Homo sapiens: one gene and its partners. The protein of the gene in region 2 interacts with the protein of the main gene of each other region in a pairwise test. Each region holds a gene or a part of one and is shown on either strand. Other genes may lie near its edges. The genes, in order: SMIM1, TMEM154, FUNDC2 and SGTA.

What was found.
Region 1: the proteins of TMEM154 (region 2) and SMIM1 interact in binary tests that used the Homo sapiens proteins (3 or more experiments, as listed by UniProt).
Region 3: the proteins of TMEM154 (region 2) and FUNDC2 interact in binary tests that used the Homo sapiens proteins (3 or more experiments, as listed by UniProt).
Region 4: the proteins of TMEM154 (region 2) and SGTA interact in binary tests that used the Homo sapiens proteins (3 or more experiments, as listed by UniProt).

The regions. Positions count from the first base shown.
Region 1 is NC_000001.11:3,768,713-3,776,142, reverse strand, and holds SMIM1 (small integral membrane protein 1), read right to left. Parts: upstream 3,395-7,430; 5' UTR 3,355-3,394; exon of another isoform or gene 3,081-3,354; 5' UTR 2,962-3,080; intron 845-2,961; 5' UTR 770-844; coding exon 660-769; intron 349-659; coding exon 222-348; 3' UTR 187-221; downstream 1-186. Other genes in the region: CCDC27 (coiled-coil domain-containing protein 27), read right to left, coding at 4,620-4,742, 6,256-6,360. UniProt on the Homo sapiens protein: Regulator of red blood cell formation.
Region 2 is NC_000004.12:152,648,783-152,656,176, forward strand, and holds part of TMEM154 (transmembrane protein 154 precursor), read right to left. Parts: intron 4,146-7,394; coding exon 3,885-4,145; intron 3,795-3,884; coding exon 3,756-3,794; intron 1-3,755.
Region 3 is NC_000023.11:155,050,450-155,057,843, reverse strand, and holds part of FUNDC2 (FUN14 domain-containing protein 2), read right to left. Parts: intron 6,175-7,394; coding exon 6,043-6,174; intron 3,250-6,042; coding exon 3,172-3,249; 3' UTR 1-3,171. UniProt on the Homo sapiens protein: Binds directly and specifically 1,2-Diacyl-sn-glycero-3-phospho-(1'-myo-inositol-3',4',5'-bisphosphate) (PIP3) leading to the recruitment of PIP3 to mitochondria and may play a role in the regulation of the platelet activation via AKT/GSK3B/cGMP signaling pathways.
Region 4 is NC_000019.10:2,773,095-2,780,488, forward strand, and holds part of SGTA (small glutamine-rich tetratricopeptide repeat-containing protein alpha), read right to left. Parts: intron 1-7,394. UniProt on the Homo sapiens protein: Co-chaperone that binds misfolded and hydrophobic patches-containing client proteins in the cytosol. Mediates their targeting to the endoplasmic reticulum but also regulates their sorting to the proteasome when targeting fails.

The DNA of each region.
Region 1 (7,430 bases), on a different chromosome or scaffold from region 2:
TTGAAGGGCTGTGTGCCAGGTGTTTGTGCGCCCCCGTGTGGGGCCGATGACAGCTGTGCACCTGGTGTCTTCGTGTGCCTGGCTGCCAGCGCGTGTGCCCTGTGCGCTGTGTGTGCCGCAGGGTCCGTGTCTGTGGGGGGGTCCATGTGTACAAGGGGTGTGTCTCCAGGCCTGTGCTCTCACGTGTGCGGCCAGCCCCCCGCGTGCATGCGGGGCAGCATTTATTTGCACTTGTGCACATAGTAGCCTGTGAGGTAGCCCAGGATGAAGATGATCCAGAAGAGGGCCACGCCGCCCAGCACCTTCATGGCGATGCCCAGCTTGCCCGTGCACAGCCTCTGGGAGATCCTGGGGTGAGAACCAACTGGAGGTGAGCCCCAGGCCAGGGCCGCATGAGGGGCCCCCTAAGTGGACTGTGGCCGTTGGTCTGGGTCAGGGGGAGGGGCCTGGGCGCTCTGCTGGAGTCAAGAGGAAGCTCTCCCCGCCCACAGCCAACCAGAGGGAAGGCCAAAGGCTGCGGTTTGCTGAGCTGCTGGACCGTGGGCTCCCAGCCAGGATGGGGTGGAGGGTGATGGGGCCGGTAGCAGGGGTTAGGGCAGGCGTCTCTGGAGGGAGACACCAGCCTGCTATGGCTGGCAGGCTGCCCTCAGGCCCCTCACCTGCGGCAGCGTGAGGCCTCTTCTGTGCTGGACACAGCCCCTAGGCTGACTCCGTCCCTGCTGCCGTCCTCCCACCTACTATAGTGGACGTGGCTCTCCTGGGGCTGCATGCTGTGGGGCTGCAGCGGGAGGGGCGGGGCCTTCTCGGTGGGGAGATCAAGACAGGTGGCCAGGCTGTGGCTTCACTGTAAAACAAGCGGATGGAGGGCGGCAGTCAAGACCCCCTCTGAGGCTGCTGTTAGGAGAGGGGCACTAAGGGTCGGGGGCTGACTCCCTCACCGGGTCTGTCGCCTGACTTAACAGGTGACCTAGACACAAAGTGGTAGAGTCATTTGCCCAGGGTCAGGCCGGGAGGATGGGACCAAGCGAGAATTCCATCTCAGGCCAAGCCCTGACCTCAGGCATGTGGGAGGCCAGTGTTTCCTTCCAGCACACTCCAGGAGCCTCCCTTCCCCGGTGCTTTTATCAGGGAGCCTGCACAGCCTGCCACCCTCAAGAGACGAGGACATTGTGGCCCAATCTAGGCTGCAGCCCCTGATAACTGTCCCCCTCCTTAACCCTGCCCGATAAGGCGCCTTCTGGCCTCTGGGGAGGCTGGCCAGGGGAGGGGGGGGTGGGGCAGGGCAGCAGGTCCGGGGCAGCGGCTGGTACAGCTAGACCGGTCCCTGTCTGGGGAGGATGCGTGGCTGGCCCCAGGCAGTGGCAGCAGCTGTGTCCTCAGCCTGTGTGGGTTGCAGCCCCTCCCCCACCCACACCTCTAGGAGGGCTGGGGCTTGGGGGGCATGATGCACTGAGCACGGGGCCGGGGTGGATTCAAGGCCTTGGGGAGGCCCTACAGAGACAGGAGGGTCGTAGGGCTGGGTGGCTGCCCAGAGCAGGAGGGGCCCGGCCCCAAGGCCAGCTCCCTGCTGGGCTCCAACTCCTGCAGACCTGGGACTCATCTTTGCATCTCGGCACTCAGCTCGGTGCCTGGCAGCCCAAGTGCCCAGAGGGGCGAGGAGACCACGGGGACTGAGCAGGAACTCCAAGCACTAGCACAGCTGCCCGGCCGGCCTGAGCCAGCCCGGACTCTAAGCACCTCCTTTACCCTCTGGCCTCTGTTTCGACCTCCTATTTACCTAAGGGGGTGTGGGGGTGGAGGAGTTGGAGGGGGCACGAGAAGTTGACAACCCACCCAGGCTGTGGGACTGGGGTCAGCTCTCTGGTCTGCTGGGCCCCCAGTGTCCCCTCTCAGCATCTGGCCCCCAGGAGTGGGGTCCTCGGGCAGGCAATGGCAGGCCCCTCACTTCTAGGAGCTGAGGCTTTGCTGGGCCCCCTCCAGCGGGGAAGGCTGACCTTCCTCCCAGGTCATCGGCACAGAGGCCTAAAGGCACAGCAGCCACTCCCCTGCAAGAAGCCAGCTCAGAAACTCAGGCCCCAGGCAGTTCTGAGACTCCCGGCACTTCCATGTCTGCCTTCCCCCAAAGCCCAGAGAGGCAGAAGGAGCTGTCTCAAAGCCATAAAGTGTGCCTTCGGTGGGAGCCCTGGCTCAGTGCAGCCTGGCACTCAGGCCCGGAGAGGCCCAGCCTCTACTGGAGTATGGGTGCTGTTTTCCCGGAGCATGTGGAGCGGTCAGCTGCCTACCCGAGGTTCACGCCCTCTTGCCTGGTGTGCAGAATCCCATTCTGGTCCCAGCAGCAATGTGCCAGCCCCAGGTAACAGCCATGACCCGGGTAAGACAAGCTTAATACCACCACCCCTGCTTTCCCAAGTCACCCAGCTGGGGTCCAGGAGCCAGGGTGCAGCAGGGGATGGGAGAGTTTGCTTCTGTGAAAGCAGCAGCAGCCACCTCCTTCTTCCAGACTCGACGTGATGGCTGGAGCTGCTGGAGCTGCAGCAGCCGCCTTGCAACCCGACATCCACGCAGCATTAGTCTCGGGAGTGCTGAGGCTCCAAGTCCACAGCAGCAGCCCACCATGGGCCTCCCGGTGGGAGGGGTCAAGCCCAGTGTGTTCAACTCTGGGATCATGGGTTCCTGTCTTGCTGACGTAGAACACGTTGTTCCCAAGTCACCCCGGTGCACAGCCACCAGAGCCGGCCCTTGAGGCTGGCCTCCCTCACTTGCTCAGTAAACGTCTCTCCACACTCATGTGATGGTCACAGGTGTGGCGGCAGGAACCCATCAGGGACTCCCCTCCAGGCCCTGGGAGGCTCCCGGATCCTGGCACCTCCTGGGGGCTTGTGAGTGCAGGAAGGCCCTAGGTACACAGGCGCCCCTCCATAGACCTCTTCACCCCACAGCGCCTCAGGGCCCCACACTTACCCGGAGAACCTTGCCTGAGGGCTGGGGCCTCTGGGCCAGGTTGCGGTCAGGGCCTGGCCAGCGGCCCGCACCTCCCAGCGGGGCAGGTCGTGGGCTGAGGTGCGGCAGACGCCTCGAGCCTAAAAAAATAAAGGTGACCGGAGAAGCCGATCTTGCTAAGGGCCGGGAAGGGAAAGTGGCTGGTGTCGGGGGTCCCCAGCAGCCACAAGGAGCCGGGCAAGGAGCCGGGCGGGCAGTTCCGGCCCTGGCCCCGCACCGCGGGTTAGGCCGGTGGGGGTCAGTCCAGGGCACGCCCCCACCCCCGCCAGTTCTCAGCCAGCGAGGCCGCGCACAGTCGCACCTGCCCACTGCGGCCGCACCGGGAAGCCGCAGCCCGGACCCCGCGCGCCTCACCTGTGTCCCCGCGTCTCTGGGCTCCGCAGGGGCCGGGCCTGGGCAGGGGGCGAGGGCGGGGGCGGGGCCACGCGGGGAAGGGCTGGAGCCAGCAGCGGGGAGGTGTCTGGTCCGGAAGGTGGCGGGGCTAGAGTGGTGGGCGGGGCCATGCGGGGAAGGTCTGGGGCCAGTAGCGGGGAGGCGCCTGGTCCAGAAGGGGCCGGGGGCGGGGCGAGAGGGGGCGGGGCGAGAGGGGGGCGGGGCCATGCGGGGAAGGGCTAGGGCCGCAGCGGGGAGGCGCCTGGTCCAGAAGGGGCTGGGGGCGGGGCGAGTGGGGCCGGGAGACGCCTCGTCCGGAAGGGGCCGGGGCTCTAGGCCGCCCAGCCCCGGGGCCAGGAGGTGCAGGGGGGCCGGGCAGGGTCTGCAGAGGGCTGCACTTTCTGCCCCCAGACGGCTCGCCCTTGGGGCCTCCAGGGTCCCCGACCTCCTTCACCCCTGCTGGAGCCCCTCCGACGCCACGAGCCTCCCAGCCCCGCGGGGACCCGGCTGCAGCGCCGACGAGACTGCGGGAGGCTCTGGGCGCGTCTGGGCCTGAATGCTGGGTTCGGGGACCCGGCCGCGGGGACCGTCCTCCTCCGGGGCTTGAGGGGCGTGGCGCCCGCACGTGGCCCACGCTCGGTGCTCGCGGCGGGAAGGGAAGCAGGTGTGGGTGGGGAGCAGAGAAGGGTAATGGGGAGAGTCCCTTCCGAAGGTGTTCAGGCGCCCAGAGCCTCAGAGGCGCCGGGGAAGCGTCGGGGACCACAGACACCGTTCCCGTGCGTAAAGCTTTCCTTCCAGGAGCGGGGGGATGGGAACAGAGCCCCCCACCCTCACCATCTTCCAGAGGGGTCCTCCAGCAAGAGAGTGCCCCAGCCAGGAGAGCCCCCAGGGCAGAAGGTCACAGACCCCTTCTGCTCAGGCGTGAGGTCTGTGCTGAGTGCTGGGCGGACACCCCGGCTCAGGCCTCTGGCAGCCTGGTGCCGCAAGGGGACCTGTTAGGAGCTAGGGGCACAGGCTGGTGTGCTGACTCCCTGTGAGTGAGCTTTGGAATGGGGAGTGTCCTTGTAGCTCAAGGTCGCAGAGGAGAGTAGGCCCCCGCGTGGATCCCAGAGAAGAAAAAGGTGGGACAGTGCCAACACCGGGGTTTAATTCTGAGTCTGAGAGCAGGACGCATGGTGGGGGCGGGTGGTTCTGGAGCTGGGCCCCGGCCTCTGCTGGGCTGACCGTATTTGGGGGCCTGGCTGGGCCTACTTGGAGGTCCCCTTCTTGGATTTGCTGGTCAGGAAGGCCTCTGACTGTTGCAGGGGGGGCACTTTGACGCCTTTCTGCTTCAGCTGATTATAGTAGTCGCTTCTCTCTGAGATAATTCTCTACACAAGAAACACAGCCGTCGAGGTGGCCTTCCCAGTTCCTCACCTTGGCCTTGAGGCCGGTCTGCACAGTCCGTGCCAGCTGCCCGGGACGCCACCCTCTCCTCCTCCTCCAGAGAGGCTTGCTGCAGCAGGGGTGTGCTGGTGAATACTTACAACCGGCTCTCCAGGGGGAGAAAAAACAAACAACCCTCGGCTTTGTGGCGTTGCCAGTTTCTGTGGTGGGAATATTCCCACAGTGGCTGATTTTCAGCCACGGAAGTGAAGTCACAGAATGCGGAGCCGGGGGCAGGTGCACACCACCAGCCCGCAGAAGCCTGCACTAAGCCCCCTCTTCAGCCCTCTTAGAGTTGTGAGGAGCCCCAGACTCCTAGAGATCTTTGAGGTCGTCACATCTGTCCCTCAAGTCCCTTCTGTCCTGTACAGAGGGAATGTTGTCCCCACCTCTCTTCCATTCTCCTCTCTGGGCCGTTGCTGGTTCATGTCAGGCTATGGCAAGCAAGCAAAGGTGCTCTTCCCTGGCTACTGTGCGGTGGGAATAACTCCCTCCATCCTCTGTCTTCCCTCTTCTCTTCCTCTTTCTCTCCCCTTCCTCCTCCCCTCCCCCAGACAACAGTACCAAGGCCGCAGAGACCTCTCTCCACATTACAGCTCTGCAGGAGAGGCACTGTCCAGGGCCCCCCACTCTGCAGAGGAAGGGAACCAGGCCCCAGGAACGTGGGTGCTGGAAGGTCAGGGGCACACACTGGGGTTCAAGGGCAGCCCCAGAGGGTGAAGTGTGGGTCTTGGGAACAAAAGCAGCTCCTGGTGAGAGGTGACCCCTTCGTAGTACACAGCCCCACACAGAGCCATAGCCGGTGCCCGGCTCCCAGAGCTCTGAGTCTTACGACACCTTGCAGGTGAGCATGCGCTGTCCATCACAGAGGGAGGCATCTATGGCTCAGAAAAGTGAGTGTGTGGCCCCCAGCTGGTGGGTGGTGACCCCCTCATGCCCAGTGACCCCAAGGCCTGAATTCTCCTACACCCCTCTACTTCTCCGAGGCCCTTGCTTGGGGACCCCTGGTCAGGAAGGAGCCCAGGAGGCTGTGGCCGGGGTGGGAGGGGTCTGCACCAGGGCCCTGGATCAGTGGGTGGTGATACCAGCGGAGGGGACCAAGCTGGACAAAGCCGGGGCTGGGCTCCTGCTGTGGGAGAATCTTCGTGCCCTGAGCGGCTTGTCCCCTCTCCACAGCGCTCAGGATGGGTTGTGGCAGTTACTGCTGGTCTCTGATGCCCGTCCCCCGTTTTGCTGAGAGTAGCTAAGACTCCCGTGCCATGCCCCCACCTGCCTTAGGATGATTTGATCCCCTCTGCCTGAGCTGAGAGAAAGGAGGGTCCTGGGGTCCAAGTGAATAGGTGACACAGGTAGGATGAGAACAGAGTCCCTGGAATCTAGGCCCCCCACAACCCCCTACCACAGCTCTGGCCTGGGGGTCTGGGGCCCGGATAGAGGCAGCTGAGCTTAGGGGTATACCTGCAGGGCTTCCAGGATGTCATTGTCAGAGATCTCGTTGGCCAAGGACTTGGTCCCGGAGATGCTAAAGGTGGCCTGGATGATCTTATTCCTTAACCTCTCGAGCTGTGAGCAAAGGGACAACACTATCATTCGCCTTTACCCAAGAAGGCACCTGGCCAGTGGGCTGCACCCCCCACCACCTTATTTTTTATGTACCAGGAAGGAACAGCTCACCCTCACTTTTCATGGCTTTAGAAACTGGAAACAGGTGTCAGAGAAGTCAATGTGGATTGTCTGAGAGCTAGGAGGTGCCGGATCCAACCCCTGACCCTGTGCGGCCCAGCCCCAAAGCCCAAAGACTCTCCTACACCAGGTGGGCTTTTCTAATTGGAAAGTAAAACCTACACACACATATATATATATTTTTAAACCAACAAACCAAAATAGTACAGAAGCCGCACGTAACCCCTGGACCATCCTCCACTGCCCAGGGGAGCTGCAGTGAGCGGACTTCCTGGCCCTTGGGGACACTCTCACTTTAGGCATTTAACAGTGCGCTGCTGGTGCTTCCTCCTTTCCATGCTGACTAGGAGGTGTCTGTGCCATGGACAGCAGCGTTGAACCTGGCCCCCGCGCACAGACCCAGAAGGCGTTCTCGTCTTCTGCTGCCATGAAGATCCTTGTCTGCCTGTACACCCGCAGCCGCCTCCCCAGAGGTAGCTAATCGTGCCTCCCAGGAAGCTGCAGAGGAAACCCCTCCAATCTGCACCCCAGGAGCCTCAGACAGGAACCCCTTGAGTTATGCGGCACGCTCAGCACGAGTTCCTCGTCCAGAAACCCTGACGACGCAGAGGTGCCCCACAGGAGCTGGGCCCGAGAGGCTCAGCCTTGCCTCCGAGTGGAAGCATGTCCACACTGCCGCTCGGACAGGTTTAAGTGACAGCAGGAATGTCATGGGCCCCTGGCCTGTGTGAGGAGTGGAATCCTTTCCTTCTTTCCAGTATTTATTGAGCGCCCAACTTTGTACAAACACCGTGCCAGGTGCTGGAGGTCGTGAGGTCACAAGGGGCTGGGCCTCTGTACTGGGGGTCCCTCCCCAGGGTAGAGGTTGGCAGCTACCCGGGGTGTCCAGCCTCACTTCCCCACACCCGTGGGGCCTCACCATCAGGCTTGGCGCTAGTTCCTGCTCACCC
Region 2 (7,394 bases):
GCCTCACCATGTGAGTGGATACCTCCAACATCCCCCCACCCCTTGAGTCCATTAGGTAAAACCAGTCATGGTTTGGGGAAGGAAATTATGACTTTTCCTGAATTTTAAAAAATTTAAAAAGCTCTGTTTGCTTTTTTTTCTTAAGCTTAGAAAGAAGCCTCCATATGACCATGTTATTAGGAAGTCCTGAAATTTCAAGCAGTGGAGAAACATGTATTTCCCACTTCTTTGGAATCTATTATATGGGCCTCTGCCATGAAAGGAAATACTCTTCGGGGCTTCTTCCCCAGCTCACATTTGCCTCATCTGCTGACTGTGAAAGATTCCTCTGGCACAGAGACAGTGAGGTGGGCATGTGGGACAAGGGCATGGCCCCAAAGCCAGAGGTGCCCTGTCATGGGTGTGAGGGACATAAAGTGAGTTTTGTATACATGTATGACTATGTATTGTATTAGAGACGTTCCTATCCTTTGAGTAACTTTTTGGAAAGACTATAAAGGCTTTAACTTAAAAATCGAATCCGAGCGAGTTTTACTGGCACAAGCCAAAAGTACCCAAGTCTGCTTTAGACCTAGAACTACCCTGACTCCTAGCACGTGATGCTCCTTGAATCACAACTGAATACTCTCAAAGTGGGTCTCTGACTGAGGGAATTTTCTATAATTGGTTTTCGGATTGATGTTAGTAATCTTTAGACAGTTGAAGAATTTGATTATAAAAGTTAGCATAGCTTCAATGGGAATAAGAACAATGCTTCCTCCAGGACTTTTCAAGATCAAATTGGGATGTGGGGTGGGGGAGAAAATAAAATCTGTAACAGAAATATAGATGAAAGAATGCTCTTCTGGTGGTGATGACCCCAAGGCCTCTAGCCTTCCCATCCCTAACCCTAATCTGACTCACTCCTTGATCAGCCTTTCTCTTTCCCCAGTGATGGGAAATGTTATACTGGCTTATTGGCTAAAATTATACAGGATCCTCATCTGGATTAGGGTCAAAGATGGCAGCAGTAGAAAAGCATCCCCCAGAAATATGCAGGTTCAGGTCCAGACCACTGCAATAAAGTGAGTATTGCAATAAAGCAAGTCACATTAATTTTTTAGTTTCCAAATGCATAAAAAGTTATGTTTTTCCTACAATGTAACCTATTAAGTGTGCAACATTGTGTCTACAGAGACAATGTATATACCTTAATTTAAAATACTTCATTGCTAGAAAATGCTAACGATCATCTGAGCCTTCCGCAAGTTGTAATTATTTTTCTGGCGGAGGGTCTTGCCTTGATGTTGATGGTTGCTGACTGATCAGGGTGGTGGTTGCTGATGGTTGGGAAGGCTGTGGCAATGTCTTAAAGTAAGATCACAATGAAATGTGTCACATTGATTGACTCTCTTTCACAAAGATTTCTCTGTAGCATACAATGCTTTGTTTGATAGCATTTTATCTGCAATAGAATTCTTTCACAATTGGAGACGATTCTCACAAAACCTGCCGCTGCTCTACCAACTATGTTTATGGAATATTCTAAATCCTCTGTTGTCATTTCAACAATGTTCATGGCATCTTCACTAGGAGTAGATTCCATCTCAAAAAAAAAAACAAAACTCTTTGTTCATTCAGAAGAAGCAATTTCTCAGCCACTTAACGTTTTATCATGAGATTGCAGCAATTCCATGGCATCTTCAGGCTTCACTTCTTATCCTAGTTCTCTTGTTCTTTCTACCACATCTGCAGTGACCCCTCCACTCAAGTCTTGAACCCCTCAAAGTCATTCATGGGTCTTGGAATCAACGTCTTCCAAAATACTGTTGATGTTGATATTTTGATCTCCTCCTATGAATCGGAAATGTTCTTAATGGCATCTAGAATGGTGAATTCTTCCCAGAAGATTCCTTCCCAGATTTATCAGAGGACTCACCATCTATGGCAGCTATGGCCTTACAAAATGTATGTCTTAAACAATAAGACTTGAAATTCAAAATGACTCCTTAATCCATGGGCTGCAGAATGGATATTGTATCAGCAGGCATGAAAACGTTAGTCTCCTTGTACATCTCCACCAGGCCTCTTGGGTGACCAGGTGCATTGTCAATGAGCAGTAATATTTTTAGTGGAATCTTGTATTTTGAGCAGTAGACCTTAACAGTGGACTTAAATTATTCAGTAAACCATGCTATAAACAAATGTGCTAACATCCAGGCTTGGTTGTTCCACTTACAGAGCACAGGCAGAGTAGATTTAGCATAATTCTTAAGAGCTGTCAGATTTTCAGAATGGTAAACAAGAATTGACTTTAAGTCACCAACTACATTAGCTTCTAACAGGAGAGTCAGCATATCTTTTGAAGCTTTGAAGCCAGGCAGTGATTTCTCCTCTCTAGCTATTAATAGTCCTAGATGGCATTTTTTTTTTTTTTTTAAGTAGGGACAGGGTTTCACCATGTTAGCCAGGCTGGTCTCAAACTCCTGACCTCAAATGATCTGCCTCAGCTTCCCATAGTGCTGAGATTACAGGCGTGAGCCACCATGCCCAGTCAGATGGCATCTTCTTCCAACAGAGGACTGTTTCATCTACATGGAAAATCTATGGTTGAGTGTAGCCACCTTCATCAACGATTTGAACTAGGTCTTCTAGATAACTTGCTGCAGCTCCTACATCAGTCCTTGCTGCTTCATCTTGCACTGTTATGTTATAGAAATGGCTTTTTCCCTTAAACCTCATGAAACACCCTCTGCTAGCTTCCAATTTTTCTTCTGCAGCTTCCTCACCTCTCTCAGCCTTTGTAGAATTAAGGAGAATTAAGGCCTTGCTCTGGATTAGGCTTAGGCTTAAGAGAATGCTGTGACTGGTTTGATCTTCTACCCAGACCACTGAAACTTTCTCTATATCAACAATAATACTGCTTTGCTTTCCTATCATTGTATGTTCACTGAGTAGCACTTTTAGTTTCCTTCAAGAACTTTTTCTTTGCATTTACAACTTGGCTAAATGTTTGGCACAAGAGGCCTGGTTTTCAGCCTATCTCAGCTTTCAACTTGCCTTCCTCACAAGGCTTAATCATTTCTAGCTTTTCACTTAAAATGAGAGATATGTGACTCTTCTTCCATTTGAACACTTACATGCCATTGTAGGGTTATGAATTGGCCTAATTTCAATATTGTTCTGTATCAGGGAATAGAGAGGCCTGAAGACAGGGAGAGAGACAGGGAATGGCTTGTTGGTGAAGCAGTCAGAACACACACAATGTTTATCAATTAAGTTCACTGTCTTCTGTGAGCATGGTTTCAGGCACTCCAAAACAATTACAACAGTAATATCAAAGATAACTGATCACAGATCACCATAACAGGCATAGTAGTATTGAAAACATTTGAAATATTGTGAGAATTATCAAAATGTAATGCAGAGACACAAAGTAAACATGTGCTGTTGAAAAAATGATACCAATAGACTGGTTTGAGGCAATGGTTGCCATAAAACTTCAATTTGTTAAAAAAAAAAAAAAAAGCAATACCTGTAAAGTGCAATAAAGCAAAGTGCAACCAAACAAGGCGTGCCTGTATTTTGAAATTCAATTAAACTTTTTTTTTTTTTAAAGAAAGGAATATGCATATATTCACTTCTGGAAAATTTCATTGAAATGTATTATTTATCACTTACTATTATATGTAGTCCTTGTTGCTTAATTTTAAAACATCTCTGCTCCTTCTCCAATCCCACCCCCACCTGTAGGCAGGTTTTAGGATAATACTCACATGTCTGTAAAGCACTCTGAGATCCTTGGCTAGAAGGTTCTGTATCAAAGCAAAGAATATTTTGTTTTATTGATTGTTCACTAACACATGAAGCAATTTTCTGGAAATGGAAATACACCAAATATTTACCTTGTTTAGTTCTTTTTCTTTTATAGTATGTTGCAAGGAATACCACGGATAAAAGTAAGAGGACCAATAAAATCAATGGGATTAACACCATCAGTATAAACTCTAACTGATTTTCATCCGGAGCAAAGTTGGTAGAATTTATATTTGCATTTAATGTTTCTTTGATGGTCACTGCAGCAAATGTGCTTGGAATAGTCACTTTATTTGGTCTTTCAGATTCCACAGTTGTATCTCCTGAGTTTTCTAATTCCTCATAATTACCTGTGGGAATAGATACAAAATTGAAATTTCCATGGAGACAAAGTTAGTATGTTATATTGTCAATGATTTTTAAATTATTCCTAGATACATTCTGTGATAAATTTGACCCACTATACTTGGCCTCCAAGCTAAGTGTGACACAGAACATTGATTTAACATAAATGAAGCTCAAGCTGGGAGTGTATTGAATATGGAATCAGAGCTCAGAGAAAAACCTTGCACAAAGGTAGGCAGTTTTGCATTGACCAGACATTTTAGATACGCTTAAGCAAAGTGGATTCGGAAGCTTCCTCATGTTAAGGGTGATTTTCCAAGCCAAGTAATGTGATATTACAGGACATCTCCTATAGGGTATGATAATATTTTAACAAAATGTCTGAATAAATTTAAATTCACATTTACTAAAATTAAGTACATGCCATACAGCACTTTTAGATGTAAAGAAATGCACTCTGTGTCCTAATTTTTTTTTTTTTTTTTGAGGCAGAGTCTTGCTCCATTGCCCAGGCTGGAGCGTAGTGGCATGATCTCAGCTCACTGCAACCTCCACCTCCTGGGTTCAAGCAATTCTCGTGCCTCAGCCTCCAGAGTAGCTGGGATTACAGGCATGTGCCACCATACCCAGCTAATTTTTGTATTTTTAGTAGAGACAGGGTTTCACCATGTTGGCCAGGCTGGTCTCGAACTCCATGCCTCAAGTGATCCACCCGCCTCAGCCTACCAAAGTGCTAGAATTGCAGGTGTGAGCCACTGCGCCTGTCTGTGTCCTAATATTTAAATAAAAGGTTACCTATCAATGGAAAATAATTCTTTGAAAATGAATTGACTGTGCCGGGCATGGTGGTTCACGCCTGTAATCCCAGCACTATGGGAGGCTGAGGTGGGCAGATCACCTGAGGTCAGGAGTTCGAGACCAGCCTGACCAACATGGTGAAACCCTGTCTTTACTAAAAATACAAAAATTAGCTGGGCGTGGTGGTGCATGCCTATAATCCCAGCTACTTGGGAGGCTGAGGCAAGAGAATTGCTTGAACCCAGGAAGCAGAGGTTGCAGTCAGCCAAGATCGCGCCATTGCACTTCAGCCTAGGCAACAAGAGCGACACTCCATCTCAAAAAAAAAAGAAAAAGAAAAAAGAAAAGGAAAATAAAAACCATCAGGATGAGAAAGGACTACTGACTTGATGACTATCTGAAAAACTTTTCCTTACCTGTCTAAGCAGTAGTCATGGTAAGATAAGCTGAAGGTCTTTGTCCTAATATCGTATAATGTTGTCTACCTTTCAGAAGGGGCCAACTGAGGAAAATACCTCGTAAGTTGATGCTACAGAAAACTTATCAAATGAGATAATTTACAAGAAAGTTATTCTAAGGTGAAAGGAACTATGCAAATACAGAAGTCAGCTGCTTTAAACCACACTCTGCGGTATAGGTTAGGCAATTACTTTACAGAATGATCAAACTGGACATTGCAGAGCCAATTCAATAGTTCATCTATCTTCATAATCCCATGACAATGGAGTCCTCTGATTTTGGTTGAAACAATAAAAATGTTTGGTCACTGCTATGAATTGAATGTTTGCATTCCCCTCAAATTCATATATTGAAGCCCTAATCCTCAATGTGATGGATTAGGGCTAAGAGGTGAGGCCTTTGAGAGGTCATTAGGTTTAGATGAGGTCATGAGAGTGGGGACCCTATGACAGGATTATTGCTCCTATGAGAAGATAAGAAAACCAGAGTTCTCTTTCCTTGCCATATGTGGATACGGAAAGGTGGTGACTGCAGGCCAGGGAGAGAGTTCTCACCAAATACTAAATCTTCTAGCACCTTTGATCTTGAACTTCCCAGCCTCCAGAACTGTGAGAAATAAATGTCTGTTGTTTTAAGTCTTGCAGTCTGTGGTATTTTGTTATGGTATCTGAGCTAAGACAGTAAGAATCTAATTGTGTTGATTGTATGAATAAATACTTTCAGTCTCCCACATCAGGGAATTCATTTGATAATCCCTTTAGTAAATGCAACCCCAAACCATCAGAATCAATTACAAACTACAGAGTAAACTCACTGGTGTTTCTCATGTGTATATGCCAAAGGCAGGATTGAAAAAAAAAACTACCAATGTTTGAAGAGTGGAGGGGCTTCAAAATGGCTGACTAGATGCATCTGGCAGTCACCTCTTCACAAAAAATAACAAAAATACTGAGTAGATAAGCTACATTTTGAATTGATCATTTAAGGGAGAACACAGGAATTCAACAGAGTAGTAATAGACAACACTTAAAGCACGGAAGGAGAGGGAAATAAGGCATCCTTCTTGGCTGAGACTGGCTGGGAGCCAGGAGAAGCTCCCCAATGTGGGGAAAGGGTAGTGGTCCATATTTCCACTGCAGACTCCTGCAGCCTAGCCACGGGAGAGCCCCTCAACTCTCACAGGCCCTGAGACTAACACTGAGAGCGCCTGTACACTGTGCAATGGCATTGCTCCAGAGAGGGACCTTATGCGGAGTCCCACACACCCCTGAGCCCTAGTGGCTGCAGCACAGTGCCACTTTGAGGGCCCAGCCCCCACCAGACTGTATCCTGCCCTAGGGCCCAACAGCCCCTGAATCTCCATGTCTCTGGAGCTCCTGCCTGCAGCCACCAGCGCTGCTGGCTGCTGCTGCCAGGGCCAAGGTAGGAGCCGCTGGCAGCACCCCTCCCCCCACCCCTGGCCAGCAGCGGGGCGCTCACACATGTTTATGTGCCTCAAGGACAAACTCCACTGTCCTCAGCTATTGCTGCTATAAACTGCTGCTGCTAGGGCCAAAGCATGAGCAAAGCATAGCCCCAGCTGGCTGCCTATGGTTGCTCCCACTGAAAGCAATCCCATCCTCTGCAGTAGCAGGCAGCAGTGTAGTCACTGCTGCCTTCACCTGAGCTTTCTATCAGCAGCCTGGGGATTGCTTCACCCCTACCTATTACAGCCAGCTACTGCATGCCCCACCAGAGAGTCAAAGAACAGGTCTGCACAGGCCAGCTCTCTCCCAGTGCAGTACTTGAGTGTGCCATTTGGGGCCTGGTGATTGCCCAGCCCAGTCTAGTCCATCACCACTGGCACCACAGCATTCCTCCCAGATGCCTGAGGTTGGGACTACCCACTCTGCTGCCACCATCATAGTTGGCATCCACCCTCATGTACCAGCTACAGGCCTGGGGACTGGCCTGCCCAGTCCATTGCAACCACTGCCAACACTAGCATGGGTACTTGG
Region 3 (7,394 bases), on a different chromosome or scaffold from region 2:
CTCTCCGACTCTGGGGAGAACCTTGGGAAGAAGAGACTCAAAAGTTCTACCTCTCCTGTAGCATGCTCCAAGTCCCCATCCCACCAGGTCCCATTGCGGGAGAGACGCTGGGTCAAAGGGTGGCTCAAAGTGGTGAGGACGCAGGGCCGACCCATAGTAGCCAGGAAGGGGACAGAAGGGGTCCCTGAGCCGGGACACTGTCCAGCACGCTGCAGGACAAGGGAAGGGAAGCCTTCACTACGTAGATGCCATCCTATTGGTTGACAAGTTGGAAGCCTTGAGTGCGGTGTTACCACGTCGCCGCCACAAGGGGGCGATGAAACCCCGAACACATTCCAAGTCAAGTTTCTGCGGACCATATACAGCGACAACGCTCTTCCCAAGGAAAAACTTCCGCCCCACCACCACTAATTAGGAAGTCCAGAGCGTCATTGGACTCTGCTACTGGAGAAAATACGTGCCTAGCTAAGCAGGCCTCTCCAGTCAAATGAAAGTAGTGCACTGAAAGGTGGAGCTGCCTGGTCCTTGAATCATCTCGGTTTTGCATGGAGGAGTGGCAGCTGTTCTTTTGGGGGAAACCTTAACTCCCACTTCACCACCTGAAACAAAACTGCTGGCACAATAGGGCCTTGATTCACAGGTAACCCCAAATGCCTGAGCCTCCTTCACCGATGGTTCAGCTAAACTGAAAACAAGGTGTGCAGCTGTGCGTGTTCAACCTCCATGCCAGCTCTGCACAATCCCAAGTGGTCACAGTGGCCTCACACCGTGGGCAGAACTCACAGCCGTTCTCATACTAGCAGGATGAGGCCAACCTGCAATACTGACCTCAACCATGACCCTCACAGTCGTAGAGGCAGCCAGCTGGGAAAAAACTTCAGGAGGGACCTACCTACAGATCTTAATTCAGACAATCAGAATACAGTCTGAGGCCAGACTATTTATTACAACCTACTCAAGGTAGTTTACAACCACCTGCTAATCTTTGCTGCCCTCACCAATAATCACAGGAAAAACAGATGCACCAAAAGACAACCCCTACCCCACTGGAGAGGCATTGGGTGGCCAGTCTCCCCACATGCAACCCAAAGGGGCACAGAGCACTTTGGTTAGCTTTGCTGTTACCATCCCATTGCTGTGGGTAAGTCACACAGGTAAAGTGGCTGCAGCCACTATCACCATATATGGCATAACCCAGAGACCCAGATGTCAGGAGAGGCAGAGTGTGGGGAAGCAGGAAACAGATGACTCAGTGTCACTACATATGTCTATATCAATATATATAGAGATATAAATATATAGCAAGCAAAAAAAAAAAAATAGAGGAGGATCTATAAGGTTAAGAGACTTATCCAAATCATGCAAATACGATGTGAACCTTGCATGAATTTTGATTCAAACAAACTAAATATAAAACACTTGAGGAAATTTTGAACACTGATCAGATTTTGGATATTATGTAATTACTGTTAATGTCTGATATGATGAGGTATTTATGATTTTTAGAAATAATTCTTACCTTTTAGAGATACATACTGAAATATGATAAAATGACATTTTGATATTTGTTTCACAATAACTGGTAAAAACCAGCAGAGCTATAATTTGATGATTGTTGTGAGTGAGTGATAGATACACAGGGGGATTATTGTACTATATTCTCTACTTTTATATATTCCTGAAAGCGTCCATAATAAAAAGTGAAAAAAAATAAGTTCTTATAGCAAAATATGCAGCAAAGAGGCTCATACCATTATGGTTTTGAGATGATTCATACATATTGCAAGCAAAATGGCTTATGTTTCCTTAAATGTAAGGAGAAAAACGCAAATAGGTGGTTTCTGTAAAGTTCCACACATCCACTGGTAGTTTTGATTTTCAAATTCAATACATCATTCTCAAGACGGGTTAAAATGCAAACATTTTTAAATGTATGGCCTTAGAAACACACTCATATTTCACAAGAGATCATCTCCAAGATTAACAATTCTGAGTAAAACTAACCTTTAATAGTGAGTTTTCTTTCTATAAAGTCATTATTCAAATACTCAGCACCTATTAAGTGCTAGGCCCTGTGAGTATAATGGTGAAGACAGAAGTCTTGCCCTCTGAAAGCTGACTGATATTCTAGTAGGGACTGTAGACATGGTAACATGCCACTACAGCAAAATGTGGTAAGATTCTGTGTGTGCGTGTGTGCCCGTGTGTGTGTGTGTGTGTAAGCTTTTAAAGAATAATTCTCAGGGTTGTGGTCATCATGAGACGGTAGATTACACTTGATGGAAATTTATTTCTCATGTCCTATCACTATCTTTCTTAATTCTGAATCCCTGGAAAGCTACTTCTTTAAAATTCCGGTTTAAATGTTGTATTTCATACTAACTAGATTAAAAAAAAAAATAGTAGAAGTGGCACAGAGGAGTTATGGCCACCCCTAATGTTTTGATAAGGATATTTCATTCACATTTCAAAGCTTAAAACCTTTTCTACAAAATAAAAATCCAAAATCTTCCCTTTCCCACCTAAATCACTTGTTTTACAATAAATAAACCCTTTGGAAACAGCCATGAGATACATTATCCTGTACGGTAGAAAGCATTCCTGGACAATATCAGATTTTTCAATTACAGTAATTATGCTGCCAATTTTGTCGGCATAATTATAACACATTTAAATAGCTTTCTGTAATGTAAAACCAACTAAAAAAGAAAGTAGACACCAAGATACCAAAATCTTTCATGCTTAAAGGCAAATGTATTCAGTTCCTTTCCATGCAGCACACAATAAGGTTATCTATGTGCTTATTTCTTTTCCAAATCAACAGTTTGGGACAACCTTTCAGGATCCACTCATCCTCCACGGTCAGCCATCTTGTAATGTGTTCTCATAAGTGTCTTGCATGGGGGTAAAGGAACCTTCTTGTTGGCCTACAGACTGGCCAAGTAGGGGGTGTACTGGGAGGAGAGCTAAGGACTATTGTCTCTTCTGCCACCATGAAGCTCATGGTGCCACATTGACTTGTACCAGCAGATGCTTAGAGAAGCCACTCAGATTTGCCATGGCAGGGAAGAAGGCATGGGAGAAGAGGAGGAGGGACTCGATGTCCTATGATGGAGTGTAGAGGCTGCTGGCTGGAAAAAACCAGGAACAATGAACATGAGGTCATCTTCCTTAGGATGCCATGCCAAGCAGAAAGCCTCCGAAAAATCCCCCAGTTACTAGAACATTCTTCTTCACAAATGACACCACCTGAAAACAGAAGATAGTACAATGGGTTGTTTTGCTAAGGATGTTAATAATATTAAGAATCATCTCTATTATACCTATGCCAGTCTTAACAATGTCAATCCCCTCATCGGTTACGTAATTTGCACTTTACCCAAAGGGCAATGGACTTACACTAATAGTCTATTTAATAATAATTAAATAGACTTACATATGAAAATGACTACTGGCTGGTGTGGGGAGAATAAGACTAGAGGGAGCCTGATGGGAAGGAGGATGCACATCAGGAGGTAGAGACAATGGCTCTTTGAATCAAGGACAAAGAAGGAGAGTTCATGGGGACAGTTATGGCGAAAGAGTAAAGCTGCACTAAATAAACTGGTTACAGAGGCAATTCTGTTTCCAATTTTGCTCCTTCCATCCTCTTTGGCATCTACCCTCCAATAGAGGCTTCTCATTTCCTGAAGTCTCTCCCCTAAATCTCTCCATCCATGCATTCCCCCCTGAAACCTGCTCCCAGGTAGATGCTATAAATTCTCATTCTCACACTTCACCACATCTAAGATGATTAACAGGTGACGTTCTTATTTCCTTAAGTTCCCAAAGCTTCCCACCTCCCCTCTACCCTCCTGGAATAGCTCCCGGTCATCTGAGACTCAGTGCATACATTCAGACACTCTTTATGGCTCCTTAGTCTGTGCTCTACCAATCTCCTGACCACTCCCCACCCTTCCAATTTCAGAGACAATTTTGATAAGTGGCTCAGACTTCCTCTTTCTCCTAAGTGTGATCACCACCTTAGAAAGTGTTCATATGAACAAGACATCCAACATCCTGGCCTGATCATTTCTTGAACTCAAGTACGGTGACTTCCATCCCCAAACCACCTAAGCTACTCACACCCTGACATTCCCCTAACATTTTTCACACTACCAACCCCATCCTCCTAGGACCACTGTCTTCTAACCCTCCAGTAAGCCCTTACTCCAACGATGCCTATGTCTTCCTGCCTCATTTCCACTCCTCCTCCATCTCTCCTGGACCTCTACATTTCCTTAAATGAAGCACTTTTGTCATCTGCCATTGGGGTGAAGAAAAAAAATCATACAACTTCCTGAGAAAATTGGTTTCGTTTATTATTTTTACTACTCTTTCTTCAACTTGCTAATTTGGCTTTCAACTCCACCACCCCACCAAACTGTTCTCACTGAAGTCATCTTGTTGGTAAATACTGAACTAAATCTTCATCCTGTTTCTCAAATCAGACCACCGGCTCTATGAGTAGGAAAACCAGCCACTACATCCCCAGGGCCTGTGACAGTGAACTCAATTCCAAATTATCTGGTTACTTTATAACAAACTCCCTCTGTGAGTCAACAGTTGGTTCTAATCAAATATTAACTTTATGCTTTTTATTATATACACTTCCAGTATTATTTTTAAAGTTTTCAGCAAGGTGCCATGGCTCACACCTGTAATGCCAGCACTTTGGGAGGCCGAGGTGGGAATACTGCTTGAGCCCAGAAGTTTGAGACCAGCCAGGACAACACAGGGAGACCCTGTCTCTCCAAAAAATTTAAAACTTCACCGGGTGTGGTGGTACACACCTATAGACCCAGCTACTCAGAAGGCTGAGGTCAGAGGATCGCTTGGTTGAGGCAACAGTGAGCCATGACTGTGCCACTGCACTCCAGCCTGGGCAACAGAGTGAGACCTCTCTTACAAAATTTTTTTTTACTCACTGTGGTGAGTCACTGTGCCCAGCCATGCATTATTTTTATAAACATTTGAATAATAAAGTTTTCATGAAATAAAAAATGTAACTTTCCTAACTTTGAGGAGAGACAGAAGGAAGAAAGGAAAGAGAAACTATCTGGGCTCTGGGCTCCTGTAGATACCCATCTCTGCCACCTTCCCACTCTGGGTAAAGGCACCAGCTTTGACCAGCCACTTGCCAATCACCAGCACGAAGAGCCACTCACAACATGAGAAGCCTGAGGCGCACACAGGGTATTTCTCCTCCCCTGCACTCAATCTGTCTGTTTTCCCTGTGAGGCTAGAGTGAGCTAATGGGAGAATCTCTCATCACTCCAGGCTACAGAAAGTACCAGCTATCTTCTTGACACCCTGATCCTTGTTTATTTCTCCCCAGTTCAGTGTACTTATTTATTTGCAACATCTGACATATTTCTAAAGGTAATAAAGCAGCAGCAAAAAATATCCTTTTAAAAAGGAAGGACTTCTCCTGTCCCTGCAGTGCCAGGTCATAATCTAACTTGGCTTTAATGAACAAGATCAGGGGTTAGCAAACTACAGCCCATGGGCCAAATCCAATCTGAACCTGTTTTTAAATAAAGTTTTATTGCAACACAGCCACATCCACTTATTTAACATATCATCTATGGCTATTTTGATGATATACAGTGGAGTTGAATACTTGTGACATTTCCACTAGTTATATGCAGAACAAGCAGAGTATGAATGTTTCAGAGATATGCGTGTATAGCGACAAAATGGGACTCAAAATAATTATACTGGCCATATATCCTTCCCACCTACTATGCTGCCCCACATTCCTACAAGAACTGGTTAAAGGGATAATCACTCCACAAATGTGCACAGACAAAGGTCACCAAACAATTATCCAGCTTTTAAAAATGTTCTGAAGTGATGATAATCCAAGTTAGTTTTGTCTCATTACTCTAAGTTCTTTGTAATGCTTAAGCCCTGTCCATCACTGAGATATGGTACAATAGGGTTAAGCCCTGTTTTTGTCTGCACTGTTCACACACTACACGTGAACAATGCAAGTCTCACCTCCTCAGCTTTGCTCCTGACCTCAGTAGGTATCTGATTGCTCTTACGGATCTTCAGCTGCTCTTTGGCTTTCTTCATGTCCTTCTCCACTCGTTGCCAGTCAACTTTGATGTACCCAGTATGGTTTGCAAGCTACAGTATCAACAATAATGACAACAAGAAATGAGAAACAGATTTGTTATTTCTTTTAGTCAGGATAAATCCTGAAGTAGACTCTCGAAACCCTCTGACTTTCCATTTTTGGAGACATCTGCCATTTGATTCTTTGTATCATGATGACATCTACTCAGCATCCCCCCTATATGCGAAGCCATATGCCTGGCACTAGAAATAACTACTGGCAATTCTTTTAAATTATTTATACTCTTACAACCCTTTTACAAAGAGTTACATAAGATGAAAATCAAGGTGGGGGGTCAAGATGTAGGGTGAAGAGATGGACCTTACAGCCAATACAAATGTTTCCAGAGAATGACTCTGACAATGTGCCCATGAGTGTCAGTTTCCTGACAATGTGAACAGAGCAAAGCATTCAGGCAGTTATTACTGTTGCTTAACAGGAAGAAATCTAGCATCTGGCCCCACAGAGATTTCTCATGAGCAAGTTCATATAAACGGATATTAAGAGAACCACATCCAAAGACACCTACAGCATATACCTATTTCCCTTGATAAAAACAGCAGGCACAAACACTAAAACTCAGTGTAAATCTGATTCAAGCATGTAGATTTTGATGATGGATTAATATCATCCTAGGAATGAAGAGAATGACTGTAGCCAATCAATCAATGCCCTATCAATATCACTTCTCTCTACCAAATTTTTGGCAATCTCAAAATATCTGAAACTAAAAGTCTTCACCTTGCTAGAGTCTCCTCCTGCATTGTTGCTCTTCCTCTAGGCCCTATTTTAGCTAATGGCACCACCAGTCACCCAAACAGACTAGAGAAAATACTTGTGATGTGTATCATAAACAAAACATTGATACTCAAAAAAGTGAACTTCTTATAGAGATCAGTAAGAAAGTTCACTTTAAAAATGGGTAAGGGCAATTCAGAGGAAAGTGTCCACAAAAAGGAAAAAGTTCAACTTCACAAGTAATCAAGCCATAGTACCTTTATTTATGAGTCTATAACTGGAAATACACAAAAGTCTATCAACACATGAATGGATAAACAAATTGTATCATATTTACACAATAGAATATTACTTAGTACTAAAAAGAACAAATTACTTACAGCAACCACATAGTTGAGTATCAACATTTGTATCTAAAAGAAGGCTCTGGTTCATTTACTCCACCCTGTTTATCCCACAAAATCCTGCTATTAAACTGAGAGAATACATGGAC
Region 4 (7,394 bases), on a different chromosome or scaffold from region 2:
GGGTGACGCGGCCACACGGCAGGGACACCGAGGGCAGAGGTGGGTGACGCGGCCACACGGCAGGGACTCCGAGGGCAGAGGTGGGTGACGCGGCCACACGGCAGGGACACCGAGGGCAGAGATGGGTGACGCGGCCACACGGCAGGGACACCGAGGGCAGAGATGGGTGACGCGGCCACAGGGCAGGGACACCGAGGGCAGAGATGGGTGACGCGGCCACACGGCGGGGACACCGAGGGCAGAGGTGGGTGACGCGGCCACACGGCAGGGACACCGAGGGCAGAGGTGGGTGACGCGGCCACACGGCAGGGACTCCGAGGGCAGAGGTGGGTGACGCGGCCACACGGCAGGGACACCGAGGGCAGAGATGGGTGACGCGGCCACACGGCAGGGACACCGAGGGCAGAGGTGGGTGACGCGGCCACAGGGCAGGGACACCGAGGGCAGAGGTGGGTGACGCGGCCACACGGCAGGGACACCGAGGGCAGAGGTGGGTGACACGGCCACACGGCAGGGACTCCGAGGGCAGAGATGGGTGACGCGGCCACAGGGCAGGGACACCGAGGGCAGAGATGGGTGACGCGGCCACACGGCAGGGACACCGAGGGCAGAGATGGGTGACGCGGCCACACGGCGGGGACACCGAGGGCAGAGGTGGGTGACGCGGCCACACGGCGGGGACACCGAGGGCAGAGGTGGGTGACGCGGCCACACGGCAGGGACACCGAGGGCAGAGGTGGGTGACGCGGCCACACGGCAGGGACACCGAGGGCAGAGGTGGGTGACACGGCCACACGGCAGGGACTCCGAGGGCAGAGATGGGTGACGCGGCCACACGGCAGGGACTCCGAGGGCAGAGATGGGTGACGCGGCCACAGGGCAGGGACACCGAGGGCAGAGATGGGTGACGCGGCCACACGGCAGGGACACCAGATTGCCCTCACGTCCTCACAAGGAACGAGCCCCGACAGAACCTTGATCATGGACTTCCGGCCTCCAGGACTGAGAGACGATGAACTCTGTTTCAGCTGCCTGGTCTATGGCACTCTGTCACCGCGGCCCCAGCAAACCGACACTAACACCTGGCAAGCAGGCATCTCAGGACGCACCTCAGTCCTCGTGACGACTCCAACAAGCGGGTCGGCCCTGTCTCCAGCTGAACTGAGCCAGGTTGGGCAGGGACGCGTGGTCGCATGCCCAGGATCACATAGACAGGAGAACAAACGGGCTGTCATCACACGGAAGGGAGCAGTGAAGGGCGGTGGCCGAGGGACACGGAGGGAGGGAGCAGCTGCGCGTTGCTCACTGTGCTGCGGTCCCAGGAGCCAGCTGCCCGAGGGGCAGCTTCTTTTATAAGAAAACGACACTTCCTATCACGTCTATGCAAATGTCCATTTTAACTTTAAGTGCACAGATGTCTAATGGCCCGAGACACGTAGGTTAACACCCGTGCACGCGTACACAGAGGCCTTCACCTACAACCATCCCCGTGTAGACAGCATCAGAGGCAGGGCACCAAAAGCATTAAAACCATGCAGATGACCTACCTGAGCACTTCGCAGACCTAGAACGTCAACTATGTAAAATACCTGCCCATGAACATTGGCAAACTCCTGGCCTCAAGCAATCCTCCCACCCTGGCCTCCCAAAGCGCTGGGATCACAGGTGTGAGCCACCATACCCGGCCTCCTCCAGGAGGCAAATGCTGAGGAAAGCCGTGGATTCTACTGACCCACTGGATTTTGCTGAAGCTGTGTGCGCGCGCATGTGTGTGTGTGCGTGCATGTCTCTCCAGATTCTGTCTCTCTCCCAGACCAGCGGTTCTCGATGGATGTGCTGAGACACTTGGTGTTGTCTCACATGGAGTGGGGGGAGGCCAGGGACGCTGCTCAGTGCCCTGGAGTGCCCAGGACGGCTCCATCCCAGAGGATGATCCGGCCTCAACATCCACAGCTCCCACTGGGAGAAAGCTGGACTAGAAGAGGAGGACCTGAAGAGCCTGTGGGTGCACCAGGCCCTTGACACAACACCGTCTCATGACCTCGGCGCAGTGACCTATGCGGCAGGACTGGGGATGGAGGTGTTCACTCAAGGCCACTGGAGCCACAGGCACGGCAGGATCCGCGCCCGGCAGGCGCCTGACCTGCCCCCACACTCAAGATCAGAGGCGTTCAGTGTCTTGGTTCCCCTAAAATGCCTCTACATGAGGTGAACAGCCACCACCCCCTAGAAAATGAGGCGTGGGCTGCCTGACCGCATAACCCACCCCGCGCCAGAGACAAGCAAGGCATTGGCCCGCCACGCTTTAAACAGTGGCTGACGTCAGACTCAGATGACACCGGCGACGTGGACCTCCACGCCACTAAACAAGCATAGTCCCAGACACACTGGGTGTGCCCACAGCTTTGTTTCCCTTTCAGGGAAAGCAACATCCATCAGCAATCATTAAAAAACAAAACAAAACAGAGAGCAAAAGAGCCAGACCCAAAGCACACACAGGGTGTGACACCGACTCCATTTCTATGAAATGTCCAGGACAGGCCCATCCAGAGACAGGAAGGAGACGCGTGGGTGCCGGGGCTTGGGGAGGGGAAGGGGAGTGACAGCTGGTGGGGACCAGCTTCCTTGCTCCCTTTTGGGGCGATGAGACAGCTCTGGAACCAGAGAGTGGTGATGGTTGCACAACCCTGTGAAGGCACCAAATGCCACTGAATTTCACGGTGTGGGGATCACAGCGGTGTGGGAATCACAGCTCAATGTTTTAAAGGGGGAGAAATCTACAAGAGCTGTGTTTTGTGTCGCTGGACAGGGAGTTACGGTCTTCCTGAAAGCTCCTGCGGGATGGTAATGAGTTTTCCGCCCCCATCTCAGGACACAATGGACAGCCCAGAACTTTGAGGTCTGGGATCAGGACTGCCTAGAGCCGGCGGGCAGCCAGTCCCAGAATCCAAAGATCTCATGTACGACACATCAGGGCCCACGGCAGTCAACCACCACCAGAAAGTGAAACCACAAAAGCTGACGTCATCCGCCCCGGCCAACAGGGTTCAGAGAGCAAACCAGTCAGGTCTCCTGACCCCCAAGCCCAAGGAAAACAGACACATGCCACCCGAAAGGTGAAGATTTTTGGTTTACGGAGTTTCTTTTGTTTTATTTTTAAGCACGTTTTGACAACAGCATTACAATAGCCAAAAGCAAACAGCCCAAGTGTCCACGGACAGGTGAGTGGATCAACACAATGTGGCCTAGCCACACGACGGAACGCTACGCAGCCATGAAAAGGAAATCCTGACCAGGCTACAACATGGGCGGACCTTGAGGACGTCGCACTCAGTGAAATAAGCCAGAAACAAAGGTACAAAACCTGTGTGACTCCCCTCCTAGGCGGTCCCTAGAGTCGTTGGATTCACAGAGACCAAAAGTGGAATTGGGGGTGCCAGGGGCTGGGGAGTGAATGTTTCATGGGGACAGAATTTCAGCCTGGGGAGATGAGAAACTTCTGGAGATGATGGTGGCGATGGCTACATAGCTGTGTGAATGTGCTTAAAGCCACTGAACTGTGCATTTATAACTGATTAAGATGGTAATTTTTGGCCTGGCATGGTGGCTCACGCCTGTAATCCCAGAACTTTTGGAGGCAGAGGCAGGTGGATCACCTGAGGTCAGGAGTTTGAGACCAACATGGTGAAACCCCATCTCTACTAAAAATGCAAACAAAATTAGCCAATCATGGTGGCGCACACCTGTAGTCCCAGCTACTCAGGAGGCTGAGGCGGGAGAATCGCTTGAACCCGGGAGGTGGAGGCTGCAGTGAGCTGCGATAGAGCCACTGCACTCCAGCCTGGGTGGCAGAGCAAAACTCCGTCTCAAAAAAAAAAGAAAGACTGGTCGGGCACAGTGGCTCATGCCTGTAATCCCAACACTTTGGGAAGCCGAGGCAGGCGGATCACCTGACATCAGGAGTTCGAGACCAGCCTGACCAACAGGTGAAACCCAGTGTACAAAAAATAGCCGGTCGTAGTGGTGCGCGCCTGTAATCCCAGCTACTTGGGAGGCTGAGGCAGGAGAATCACTTGAACTCGGGAGGTGGAGGTTGCCGTGAGCCAAGATCGCACTACTGTACTCCAGCCTGGGCAATAAGAGCAAAACTCCATCTCAGAAAAAAAAAAAAAGACCAGGCGCAGTGGCTCACACCTGTGATCCCAGCAGCACTTCGGGAGGCCAAAGCGGGGGGATCACTTGAGCATAGGAATTCAAGAGCAGCCTGGGCAACATAGGGAGACCCCATCTCTGCAAAACATTAAAAAATTAGCTGGGTGTGGTGGCACACATCTATAGCCCTAGCTGCTTGAGGGGCTGAGGCAGGAGGATCGCTTGAGCCCAGGAGGTCCGTGCTGCAGTGAGCTGTGATCACACCAATGCACTCCAGCCTGGGAAAGAGAGTGAGACCCTGCCTCAAGAAAAGAGTTTCTCTTCAAAGTCTGGGGTCTTTGAGATGAGGGTCACACCCAACCAGGTGTCTTTAGCTGAGAATGGTGCCGACATCTCTTCAGAGGTTTCATTGGAAATGATTCTGTAACAGGCGGCATCAGGTCAGGATCCCCAGGCAGACACACCTCACTTGGTGACCTCAGATTTGGAAGAGGCAACAGCAAGCAGCAGAAACAAGACCTGGGCCAGGAGCGGTGGCTCAGGCCTATAATCCCAGCACTTTGGGAGGCTGAAGTGGTCTGGAGTTCCTGACCAGCCTGGCTTCTACTAAAAATACAAAAATTAGCCGGGTGTGGTGGCGGGTGCCTGTAATCCCAGCTACTCGGGAGGCTGAGGCAGGAGAGTTGCTTGAACCTGGGAGGTGGAGACTGCACTGAGCTGAGATCGCACCACTGCACGCCAGTCTGGGTGACAAAGCAAGACGTCATCTCAAAAAAAAAAAAAAAAAAAGAAATCAGACCTGGCTGAGTCCCCGCATAAACCTAGAAGGCGGGGGTCACAGCCCCCTCTTACAGAGGGAGTGACAGGCCCAGACAGGTGGCACACGCAAGATCCTACCAGTGACAGCTGGAACTCGGCTTAGCATTCCAGGCACACAGGGCCTAGCACGATCCACGCTGAGGGGTGTGGGGGGCAGGGGTGTGTGTGTGGAGGGGGATGTGCGTTCCTTCGCAGGGAACTAACACAGAATAAACCAAGAAATCTCATCTTTGGTTCTTTGGTGTACCTGTTTCCTTCTCTCTTAAACTGAGGTGTGAGAACTGGACAGGGTGGCAGGTGGCTAGGGACCCAATGAGGGTTCAGAAAGTGGAAAGAGTTGCATTCACTGAGTCACACTCCTCTCTTCCAGTGCCGCCGGTGCCTCTGTACCCCAGGGCTTTTGCACGTGCTGCTTTCCCTCCTGGAACACCGCCCCCCCCGGCCCCCGCCGCCACATCCCAGAGAACCTCTTAGCCTCAGGGTCTCCACCCTACCCCATCCCTGTTACCCTGGGACAGAGCTGAGCAGAAGTGCCCCAGCTTAGACACCCTGGGCTAGGGGATGCCACGGATCCCCAAGAGACTCTGTGTCCCATGATCATTTGCTCTACTAAGGTCCCAGGAGGCTGCACACATTGAAATTCACAAACTATGGAGGATTGCTTGAGCCCAGGAGTTTGAGGCCAACTTGGGCAACAAAGTGAGGCCCTGTCTCTAACAAAACAAAACAAAACAAAAGATAAAATAAATCCACACACTAAGGGGAGAGGGAGCAAGGAGGTGAATCCTAGGAGCTGGGGACCCCCTGATTTCCACCCTCTGCCCAATCAGAAGTTTATTCTGCTGTCCAGTGTGAGCAGGAGCAAGCTCAATTTTTTTCCCAAATAATTAATGCAGGTCTGTCGCCTGTGGCACTGTGGGCATCTTGGGTGGATGATTCTGTCCTGCGCACGGCAGGGGGCTGAGCAGCACCCCTGGCTCCCCCCACTGCACACCAGAAACACTCTCCAGTTGAGACAACCACACATGTCCCCAGACACTGCCAAACCGCCCCCAGCTGTAAATCACTGATGGCCACTAAGTGGGAAGAAAGGCTGGAAGTCAGTACAGGTCAGCTTTTTCTGTCCAAAATGACTTTGCTGTGAGCTTTCTGAAAACCTTCTGCTTGTAGGCTATTCTGGGTTTCAGAACTGCGGGTCCACGGTGGAGGACTGCTCAACTAAGGGAAGCACAGGCCCTGCCCAGCATGTGACACAGGCCAGTGGTGCCAGGACCTGTGGCTTCTCTGCTGTCCCCAAGGTGGGGGACATCATCAAACGGTTCTCAAATCTGCTTCAACAGCCAGGCTTTCCCGTAAGAAAGTTTTCTGCTCTTCAGAGGGGGGTCCAGCAAGCATGAGGACGGCATTTTCCTCAACTGCCGTTTGGCACTCGGTGTCTTTGGAACAATCACAACTTGTAGGGTTTGGCTGTGGGACAGCATCTCAAAGAAGGCCTGCTGTGTCTCCCAACAGCGAGGGCTTTATGGATGCTCAGGAGCCATGGCCGAGGCCTGGTTTCAAGGCAGAGGCCGCAGAAGTGAGGGTGGGAGGGTGCTGGCCCATGGGGGTGGCGCCAGCTCCAATGTTGGGGGCTTCAGCGTCCCTTTCGGCTCTGAGCCGATGACTCCACATCCCACCTTTTCATTTTATCATTAAAATAAAAACAAAATCAAAACACAGCCACCTCGGTCGGGGCGGTGGCTCACACCTGTAATCCCAGCACTTTGGGAGGCCGAGGTGGGAGAATCGCTTGAGTCCAGGTGTTTAAGACCAGCTTGGGCAATACAGTGTATAGTGAGACCCTACAAAAGAGACTCTAAAAAAAAAAAATAGAATTAGCCTGATGTGGCGGCACACACTAGTAGTCCCAGCTACTTGGGAGGCTGAGGCGAGAGGATTGTTTAAGCCCAGGAGTTGGAGGCTGCAGTGAGCTGTGATTGGGCCCTGCACTCCAGCCTGGGTGACAAAGTGAGACCCTGTCTCTAAAAACAAACAAAAAACTCACAACCACCTCTCTTCCTTATTTCCCTGCCCAGAAGGGATCATTCAATGGAAAAAAATAGAACATCCTCGTAAACTGAGGTCGTCTTACCTCCTCACACCCCAGTAGGAAGGGCCCGCTCTTACCCACTACCTTCTGTGAACACTCTGCCCAACTCCATCCCAAATCCACGGTGCTTCTCACCAACAGCAGGGCAGGAGAGCCGGGTGCCCTGCTCCTCACTCCCTCTTAGGATACCCGAGTTCTAGCTCAGTCTCCTGCCCACTCCCCACATCGAAGCCTACTTCCTTCTAAAATGCCACCAGGAGATCGCTGCACACATAAAAGCTCTCAACTGCTCCTTGCAACCCCAGGAGTGTGCATAGGAGGCCTCTCACCAGCT